2 separate regions of the Homo sapiens genome follow, and region 1 is linked to region 2. The links come from fine-mapping of genetic effects on gene expression. A gene starts in region 2. The other region holds a variant in brackets. All regions are shown on one strand. Distances are from middle to middle.

What was found.
Region 1: its variant is fine-mapped to the expression of SUCLG1 in whole blood (TOPMed, PIP 0.97).

The regions. Positions count from the first base shown.
Region 1 is chr2:84,395,852-84,401,093 of GRCh38, forward strand. No RefSeq gene overlaps it. Among named protein-coding and RNA genes, the nearest start is that of SUCLG1, 61 kb to the right of the region's middle. The variant A/G (reference allele first, on the strand shown) is at 2,887.
Region 2 is chr2:84,456,359-84,461,600 of GRCh38, forward strand. SUCLG1 (succinate-CoA ligase GDP/ADP-forming subunit alpha) reads right to left here and starts at 2,922. Exons shown (of 9, transcript NM_003849.4): 1 at 2,815-2,922. The coding sequence starts at 2,911. It also overlaps a transcript of DNAH6 not described here. RefSeq lists an enhancer at 2,959-3,098 and a silencer at 3,279-3,468.

The DNA.
Region 1 (5,242 bases), 61 kb before region 2:
GTGAAACTAAGTACAGTGTTCCAGGTCACAAAACAAGTGAGCAGTGGAGACAGGATGTGAATGCAAGCCAACTCTGGCTTCAAAGCTTGTCTCCTAATGACTCTTCTCCACCTCCTTCCTGGCAGCTATGAGACCTGGTAGTATCTTGCTCTAGCACTGCTGTATGACTGTTAAAGGTCTAAAGCACTGGTTCTCACACGTTGGCATGCAGCAGAATTAATATCCCCTGGAGAGTTTGTTAAAACATAGATGACTGCGGCCCTAGAGTTTCTGAGTCACTGAGTCTGGGGTGAGGCCCAAGAATGTACATCTTTAACAAGTTTCTGGGTAATCCCTATTGCTGCTGCCTTGGGAACCACGCTTTGGGAATCACTGGCCTAAAGCACTATTTTTAACTATTGAGAGACATTGGGCTAATAAACTGATAAGCTTTTGGATGTTAAAGGATTCCATCCTATGTCATTTTTGTATCATTGGAAAGAAGAACAATCTCTCCTAGAAAGAAAAAGAAAAACTAAAGGATACTCATAAGATTGTGTATAGACTGAGAGTGAAGACACATGGTTTTTTTAGCTTTTCTATTTTTAAGAAGGAAAAAAAATTAAAATTAGTGAGTACACCAGAAGGAAATTTCAAGACTTCCTCCTAATTGGCAGGTGCAACTCTCCTGGGTCCTTGGCTGCTGGAGAAAGATTGGACTAATGAGCATCACCTGGTGGCCATGTGGCATTGACTCCACTGAAGGGGAATGAACATGGCCCTTGGTATTTGAGCCTTTCTACATATGTCCACGTGTATGACCTTGTTCATGTAATTAGTACATTATTATTGCTAGTTTGTCACACCCTTATTTTAAAAGAAAACATTATATAGTTCAATATAAGTAATCAGAATATATGCTGCACTTAGTCCTTCATTGATCAAACAATATTTACTGGAATTTTGTTATACACTCAACACTCTAGTAAGGACCAAGTGGGCACCAACCAAGTATAAAACATGGTCCTTGTCCATATAAAACTCACAGCACAGCTGGGAAGGCAAGTCACTCTCATTAAAACAGAAAAAAAGCACACAAGAATCATAAGTCATGTTATCTATTATGTACAAAACAAATCCTTTTTTCTTATAGTTATACTATATTATTGTTTTCCTCATTTATTCAACAAATATGAATAGGGGCAAGTACTGCGCTGGACTCTGGGAATAGAAATAGAGACACGCTCCTTGCCTTTAAGAAGTTCACAGTCTAGAAAAGAAAGCATATACCAAACAAACAGGAGGATACAGCCAATCTGCCTGGACTCAGAGGGCACTGAAAAGTTTCATGGAGAAGGTGACCCTGAACTGAGGTTGGAAAGGTGAGTGGGAAATTGTTCAATGTACAAGCTGTACACTGTAGAGGACTTAGCATTCTACCGAGGAATGGCACATGCAGATGCAGAGAGGCCTCACCAGAAGGGCAGATTCCAGAATGGCCAGTGAAGTTGTGTAGCCAGAACAGGGTGTATTTGAGGGAGCTGCAGTAGAAGCAGTCACCCATCAGCAGGATGGGCTTCATGCCACAGGAAGGCAATTAGACCTTCATCTAAAACAAAATGAGAAGCCATTGAAGAGTGGTAAGCAAATGACGTACTGTTGGGAGTATTCTGGGAGACAGAAGAGGGTGGAGTGAAGAAAGGTAAGATACTGCAATCATTGTGGTGTAGGATGATGAGGGCCTAAACTCAGACAAAAGAAGGCAGATCACAGAGTTTATTAAGAATACAGACTCATTGAAGCTTCTATAAACATAGCTCACAAGGAACAGGGAGAAGTGTAGGACAGCAACGTTAAAAGAAAAACATTAACATAACAATGTGGAATAAATAAAATACACTATTTCTCTAAAATGAAATGCTACAATACCAAGACAGGAATGATGAAGAAAGGAAAGGATAATTAGAAATGAGAAGAGTAAAAATGTTTTAAGATTAATAAATTTATGGGATGCCAATAATCAGTATAAATCAACCTGGGAAAGCATTAGTCAGAAACCATGCTATAACAGTTGAGCACTGCAATGAATTTGGAAATTGTTCTTGTCCTATCCATATCTCTAACTTCACCTATGATACAAAAAGATGCCTTTCATCTTCAAAAGAAAATCGTTTCCTTTCCATTCAGTTTTTTTAAATGACCATCAACAAGTCATTGGCACAGACTTTGGAAAACGTCTACTTACAGATTCTAAAATCTAATTTAGGCATAGACATCTATTCATAGATCTCTCTTCAGAACTTGAATATTAGATTGCTGGGAAGATGGCTGAATAGGAACATAACCAGTCTTCAGCTCCCAGCAAGACTGACACAGAAGGCAGGTGATTTCTGCATTTCCAACTGAAGTACCCAGTTCATCTCATTGGGACTGGTTGGACAGTTGGTGCAGCCCAAGGAAAAATGAAAGAACAAATGTTAAGGGCAGCCAGAGAGAAAGGTTGGGTTACCCAGAAAGGGAAGCCCATCAGACTAATGTTGGATATCTCAGCAGAAACCCTACAAGCCAGAAGTGAGTGGGGGCAATATTCAACATACTTAAGGAAAATAATTTTCAACCCAGAATTTCATATCCAGCCAAACTAAGCTTCATAGGCAAAAAAGAAATAAAATCCTTTTCAGACAAGCAAATGCTGAGAGATTTTGTCACCACTAGGCTTGCCTTACAAGAGCTCCTGAAAGAAGCACCTAAACATGGAAAGAAACAACCGGCACCAGCCACTGCAAAAACAAACCAAATTGTAATGACCATCGACACTATGAAGAAACCACATCAACTTATGGGCAAAGTAACCAGCTAACATCATAATGGCAGGATCAAATTCACACATAACAATACTAACCTTAA[A/G]TGTAAACTGGCTAAATGCCCCAATTAAAAGACACAGACTGGCAAACTGGATAAAGAGTCAAGACCCATCAGTGTGCTGTATTCAGAAGACCCATCTCACATGCAAAGACACACATAGGCTCAAAATAAAGGGATGGTGTAGTATTTACCAAGCAAATGGAAAGCAGAAGAAAGCAGGAGTTGCAATCCTAGTCACTGATAAAACAGACATTAAACCAATAAAGATCAAAAGAGACAAAGAAGGCCATTACATAATGGTGAAAAGATCAATGCAACAAGAATAGCTAACTATCCTAAATATATACACACACGATACAGGAACACCCAGATTCATAAAGCAAATTCTTAGAGACCTACAAAGAGACTTAGACTCCCACACAATAATAGTGGGAGACTTTAACACCCCACTGTCAATATTAGACAGACAACGAGACAGAAGGTTAACAAGGATATCCAGGACTTGAACTCAGCTCTGGACTAAGTGGACCTCATAGACATCTACAGAACTCTCCACCCCAAATCAACAGAATATACATTCTTCTCAGCACCACATCATACTTATTCTAAAATTGACGACATAATTGGAAGTAAAACACTCCTTAGCAAATGCAAAAGAACAGAAATCATAACAAACAGTCTCTCAGACCACAGTGCAATCGAATTAGAACTCAAGATTAAGAAACTCACTCAAAACCACACAACTACATGGAAACTGAAAAACCTGCTCCTGAATGACTACTGGGTAAATAACAAAATGAAGGAAGAAATAAAGATGTTCTTTGAAACCAATGAGAACAAAGATACAACGTACCAGAATCTCTGGGACACATTTAAAGCAGTGTGTAGAAGGAAATTTATAGCACTAAATGTCCACAAGAGAAAGCAGGAAAGATCCAAAATTGACACCCTAACATCACAATTAAAAGAGCTAGAGAAGCAAGAGCTAATGAATTCAAAAGCCAGCAGAAGGCAAGAAATAACTAAGATCAGAGCAGAACTGAAGGAGATACAGACACTAAAAACCCCACAAAACATCAATGAATCCAGGAGCTGGTTTTTTGAAAAGATCAACAAAATACTTAGACTGCTAGCCAGACTAATAAAGAAGAAAACAGAGAAGAATCAAATTGATGCAATTAAAAAATAATAAAGGGAATATCACCGATCCCACAGAAATATAAACTACCATCAGAGAATACTATAAACACTTCTATGCAAATAAACTAGAAAATCTAGAAGAAATGGAAAAGTCCTGGACACATACACCCTCCCAAGACTAAACCAAGAAGAAGTTGAATTGCTGAATAGACAAATAACAAGTTCTGAAATTGAGGCAGTAATTAATAGCCTACCAACAAAAAAAAGTCCAGGACCAGATGGATTCACAGCCAAATTCTACCAGAGGTACAAAGAGGAGTTGGCACCATTACTTCTGAAACTATTCCAAACTTAGAAAAAGAGGGAATCCTCCCTCACTCATTTCATGAGGATACCATCATCCTAATGCCAAAACGTGGCAGAGACAAACAAAAAAAAGAAAATTTCAGCCCAACATCCCTGATGAACATTGATGCAAAAATCCTCAACAAAATACTGACAAACTGAATCCAGCAGCACATCAAAAAGCTTATCCACCATGATCAAGTCAGTTTCATCCTAGGGATACAAGGCTGGTTCAACATACACAAATCAATAAACATAATCCATCACATAAACAGAACCAACGACAAAAACCACAATTATCTCAATAGATGCAGAAAAGGCCTTCAATAAAATTCAATACCTCTTCATGCTAAAAACTCTCAATAAACTAGGTATTGATGGAACATATCTCAAAATAATAAGAGCTATTTATAACAAACCCACAGCCAATATCATAGTGAATGGGCAAAAACTGGAAGCATTCCCTTTGAAAACTGGCACAAGACAAGGATGCCCTCTCTCACCCCTGCTATTCAACATAGTATTGGAAGTTCTGGCCAGGGCAATGAGGCAAGAGAAAGAAATAAAGGGTAGTCAATTAGGAAAAGAGGAAGTCAAATTGTCTCTGTTTGCAGATGACATGATTGTATATTTAGAAAACCCCATCGTCAGGCAGGGCGTGGTGGCTCATGCCTGTAATCCCAGCACTTTGGGAGGCCGAGGCGGGCGGATCACGAGGCCAAGAGATCAAGACCATCCTGGCTAACACGGTGAAACCCCATCTCTACTAAAAATACAAAAAATTAGCCGGGTGTGGTGGCGGGCGCCTATGGTCCCAGCCGCTCGGGAGGCTGAGGCAGAAGGGCATGAACCTGGGAGGCGGAGCTTGCAGTGAGCGGAGATCATGCTACCGCACTCCATCCAGCCTGGGTGA
Region 2 (5,242 bases):
GGGATTTCCTCATCTGCCGTACAAAGGTATGGGACCAGTTGGGTTTTAAGGTTTACTTTCTGGCATTAAAATACCAAAATTCTGAGGTTCAAAAATACTGGCTTTTATTCCCTATTTATTCTAAAAGATTCAAGTTACAGAAACTACTGACCAGTTTTAAAAAGACCTTGCATTACTTTATGCTTCTCTTAAAACTTCACTATTTCAACTTCAAGGGTGCTTATGAAATCCTTAAACTTTCTCATGGAAGAACTCTTCCTCATTTTTCATTGTATTTTCTCTCTCCACTTCAACTGGATCCTTTTCCTTTTTTCTCTTTTTCTGAGACAGAGTCTCACTCTGTTGCCCAGGCTGGAGTACAGTGGCACGATCTCAGCTCACTGCAAGCTCCACCTCCCGGGTTCAAGCAATTCTCCTGCCTTAGCCTCCTGAGTAGCTGGGATTACAGGCGCCTGCCACCACACCTGGCTAATTTTTGTATTTTTAGTAGAGACGGGGTTTCACCATCTTGGCCAGGCTGGTCTTGAACTCCTGACCTTGTGATCTACCCGCCTCAGCCTCCCAAAGTGCTGGGATTACAGGCATGAGCCACCGTGCCAGGCCACTTTTCCTTTTTTCATAAGCTATAAAACAGGGCTCCGGAAGGCATCTACCAGTGTTCACTTGAGTTTTTTCTGTGGCTGTTAACTCTAATCAATATTGCAACACTATGACCTTCAGCAAGTAATGTACCATAAGTTGAAACTTAACAGAGGGAACAAAATTCCCTAACATCTGTAGCTCTATTAGCTTCACAGACTAAATAATTTCTGGTCCCTTTTTAAAAAAAAAGTTTGCAAGGTGATGTTGTAGCTGCTATTTTTCTAGTGGGAGTGAAAATGGGCTCGGAAATGTGGCATGGGAAAGAGGAGTTAGAGTTTTGTGAATTTAGAGGTGTTTACACATTAAGCATTGTTGTCTGTAACCCCTCTTAATATAGAATACATCTTGGTTTAAATCTCAGACCCGTAATAACAAGTTAATCACATGACTTGAATAATTCAAGCCCACTCCAGTAACAAAACTAAACCAGATGGTCACTCTAGGGCCAAATGATCCTGGGAGTCTAGGAAGAACACACTTCCAGTTCTGTGGGAAGAGGATTGAGAGGACTGCTAAGGGTGGAGTAAGGAACTAGATCTTTTAGACACTCTTCCTTTATTCTCTAGATTTTTCTAGACAGCAGACCTACCTGAGGCTAGGATCTTTCAGAACCTCAGACTAGCAAGACCACAGAAGCGAAAGACACAGGTGGGCAACTTCTTCCTAGGGTTTCCCACCACAGTGGCTGTGCTGCACATCTGATCTTCTACATTCTAACCCACTATCTATTCAAATTAAGCTGGTTTAAAACCATATCCAATATACTTCATTCTTGGTGCTCAAACTTTATTGACCTGAGTGATTACTGGGTATAATGAATTCTTTTTGTCCTTCTGCCTACAACACTCTCAAGAATCTCCAGAAAGCTTTACCAAACAAACCATTTCATACTTGCTAACGTTATCTAGCCAGACCTTTGTCCTCAAGTGATTGGCAACTAAGTGTTAGCTATTGAGTGCACACTCATCAATGTACACTTTCAGAATGTAATCTTCTCAAGAAAGGAATTAAGTCTCATAAAATATTCAGTACAAGCAGAATTAAGAGCAAAGCGGAAAAAGAAAACTAACTTTGAGTGTTTGTTACATACGAGATGCTTTATATAAATTGCTCCACTTATTCTGCAGTGAACCCAGATCATCCTGTACATCATCATTGCTAAAATGCACATTTTTTTTCACTTTTTAAAAAACCAGGATACATGTGACAACCACTGGTGTGTCACAGTTTTAATAAGCAATCGTTCTTCATTGTTAGTGGTAAACAAAATAATGGTCCACCTTACAAGTGATGGTGCTTCAGGCCCCTTAAAATGTGTTAATATTTTCATGTGATTGGAAACACTGAAAAACAGATTAAGTGTCCAGGGTTATTACACAGACTGAAAAGGGACTAGCCAGACTTCAAACCCTGATGTGGCTGATTCCAAAGTTTCTTTCTACTATAACCTACCTGACAAGCACAGAGACTTTGAATATGGCAAGAATTTTCCATAGTCAGCGTGTCTCAAAGACTAGCAACCTTGGGTACTAAGTTTTCGGGAACGGATGTGTCCACAAATCGCCTGGTGGAGACACTGCAAATAAGCTGGTTTAGGTCCCAGCCAACCATAAGCTTCTAGTAGTCTATGCGGCTATGCCGACCCCACTCCGTGTGCAGAAACCATCTTTCCCTGACATACAATCCTGCAGAGGGGGAATTCGAAGTGCAGGACCTTTCCGTACTAGGGACAGCCTCATCCCCCAACTTCCTACTGAGACACTCTTCCTCTACCTCTCAACCCAGACCCTTACCTTCCCCACCAAGTTCACCTTGGACCTCTTCATCCCCAACTCCAAATAAGGCCAGTCTAGACGCCACCCCCATCCTGTCATTTGTCACCGCGGGGCCGAGAGCAAGCTCCCAAATTTGCAGGGCTCCCGGACCCGAATCCTGGCTCAGCCACCCAATATCTCCATCTGCCAGCGGCCTAAGTCATGCCCCCCGCCCCACGTATCCAGCAAAGCTCCTTCCACCGTAGGGGTCCCCGACTCGAAGCCGGAATCCCAAGCGGCTCCCAGGCCCCCGCCGAGGTCCAGCCCTGAGGGCCCAGCCGCGGCCTGGGCCAGGAGGTTGGGTCCGGCGGGGCCAATAACCCGCGGGCGCCAGGAAGACAGTACTGGCTGGACTCACGGAGGAAGCTGCGCGACAGGAGACGGGCGGCGGCGAGGCCGCTGCTGCCGGAGACCATGGTAGCGATGTCAGCGGCAGCGGCAAGGGTTGCGGTCATACGCCAATGACACTCCCAGGCCCCCGGGGACCTCCCAGGGGCAGAGGCCGGAGGAGGCAGAGGGTGGCCACAGCAGTCGCCTGAACAAATTTCCCTTTACAGAGGATTCTTCACGAAACAGCGGGAATGGCAGGTGAAGACAAAGAGGCATCCTATCGGAGAGGCAGATAATAACTCGGCTCCTTCCTAGAAATGTGGGTTTGATTAACATTAATTATAACAGCAGCTGAGGGAAAACCCCACGCGAGACTGGCCAGCGCGTGGCATTGTGGGCAATGTAGTCTGACGGCCGCGACTGGTTCGTAGCTTTTGAGTGAGGCGGCGGGAAGGGAGCGAGGGAAGAGCGGCAGTGAGACCGGGGAGACAAGGGACTTGAAGACTAGGAGGGAAGAAACAGCGAGGTGAGGTGCGAAGAGCAGTGCCAGAACTTTGTATCCCAGGCCCATCTCCTTCCCCCTTCGTTTTCCTCGTTTGCTATTAGAGAGAATAATATTTCTCACCGCGTACCTGTGCCTGGACCCGGAAGGGTTGCCGCTGGGGACGGGAATTCGAACTGGCACTGGTGGCCTGTGAAGGGAAAGATGTGATGAGAAAGACCAAAACCTATCTTACTGACAGTTAACTTCTTGGAATGTGAATTTTTTTAGTTAAATAATCATGCAGTCTTTGACTAGCACTAAGTGCATGAGTGTTTATTCCCTGAGGATCCTAAGGGCTGAAATTCGAGGTCAAATGTGACTTTGCTCCCTGATTGGACAAACAGTTCCCTCTTCTGTAACAGCTTTAGAAGGAACCTCAGAGAGTCCCAGAGTCAAAAGGTAAACAAGAGATGAAGTAATCTGCGTCTCTGCCGAAAATCGTGCTCCTGAGATTCCTCATCAGAATTGTCAATAAAATTGCAATCCTAATTTACTTAGGTAGTCATTATAATTGGCACTGAGCTGTGGGATGGATGAGTGGGATTACCCCAGGAGATTGCCCAATACTTCCTTTATGATCCAAATATTGTCATTAACAGGTTGGACTTCACTGCAAATAAACTCCTCCCTCATGGATCATGTTCTTGTGATAACTAAATTCCTCAGAGTTAAATAGTATCAGTGGTTTCCAGATATATCCATTATAACAAAATGGACATTTTTATGGCAAATAAATAGAAAATCCCTTGCTATTTTAAATAGCAAAATTATTCCTGAGCTGTCGCTTGATAAGTTATATGTTTAGTTTCATTTAATTGATAAAATGCATGATGACAAAAAATATAATTTCAGTACACTTTTAATGAAAATTTGTATTTCCATGAAGACGGGGATTTTTGTTTGTTTTGTATCCTGGAGTATCCCCAGCACCTAGAACAATGCCTTACACAAATAACTCATCGTTGAATTGAATTGATATATATAGGAGAAATAGTAGTATATAGATTATTTTTTGGATCCACAGGCAATGTTTGATGGACTTAGGATATTTCAACCTCTTGTAATAACTGCACCCCTGTGGCAGACCAGGTCTCACTAACGCAGGCCTCCATAACAATGTTTCAGTGCTGACTGAGTGGTTAAGTTAAATATTAAAAGCCAGTGCCCTTATACAAAGGCTGAGATGTAACAGAAACCCACCAAGGGTTTTGCCTAGGCCTTTCCTGGGCCTTGAAGCATGACAAATTAATGAAGAAATTCTTAACAGGACCCATTTAGGATTAAACAAGTTTTATTGGAGGTCCGAAGAAACTCCCCAGGCCTCCACAAACAAGTTTATTGGAGGTCTGAAAGAACTCTCCAAACCTCTGTGATTTAGCAGGGGATAAGATAAGGGTAATCACCCCAGCACCTAAACCCATGTAGATTAAGTAAATTTATTGAGGCTTCAGAGGATGGTCTTCAGTACTCAGACCTTAGTTATAGATTAAAAGAAGTTAATCACTTATGTCTTTAGATAAATGCACACTTACAAGTAAACATATAGCTTAGAAGGTATATAAGCTCTGGAAAACTGTAATTTTAAGTTGGTCTGATGATAATTTCCAGGCCTTCTCCCTGTAATCGGTTGCAGAAATAAAAACTCTCTTCCTCCCCAGTTCATCTACATCTCATTATTGGGCCACAAAAAATAGCAGCCCAACCCTCAGTTTGGTCCGGGAACACCCCTACCTCAATTCTGTAGCTCATAGGTAGGGGACAACCACACTAGTCAATACCACACCACTCATCTTTGTATGCAGATTGAGTTTGGAAATCAGACAGGTCTGGGTTCAAATTCCAACTCTGCCACTGGCTACATGACCTCTGGGTTTCAGGTTTTATTACTGAGATGGGTATGAAACTCCCTATT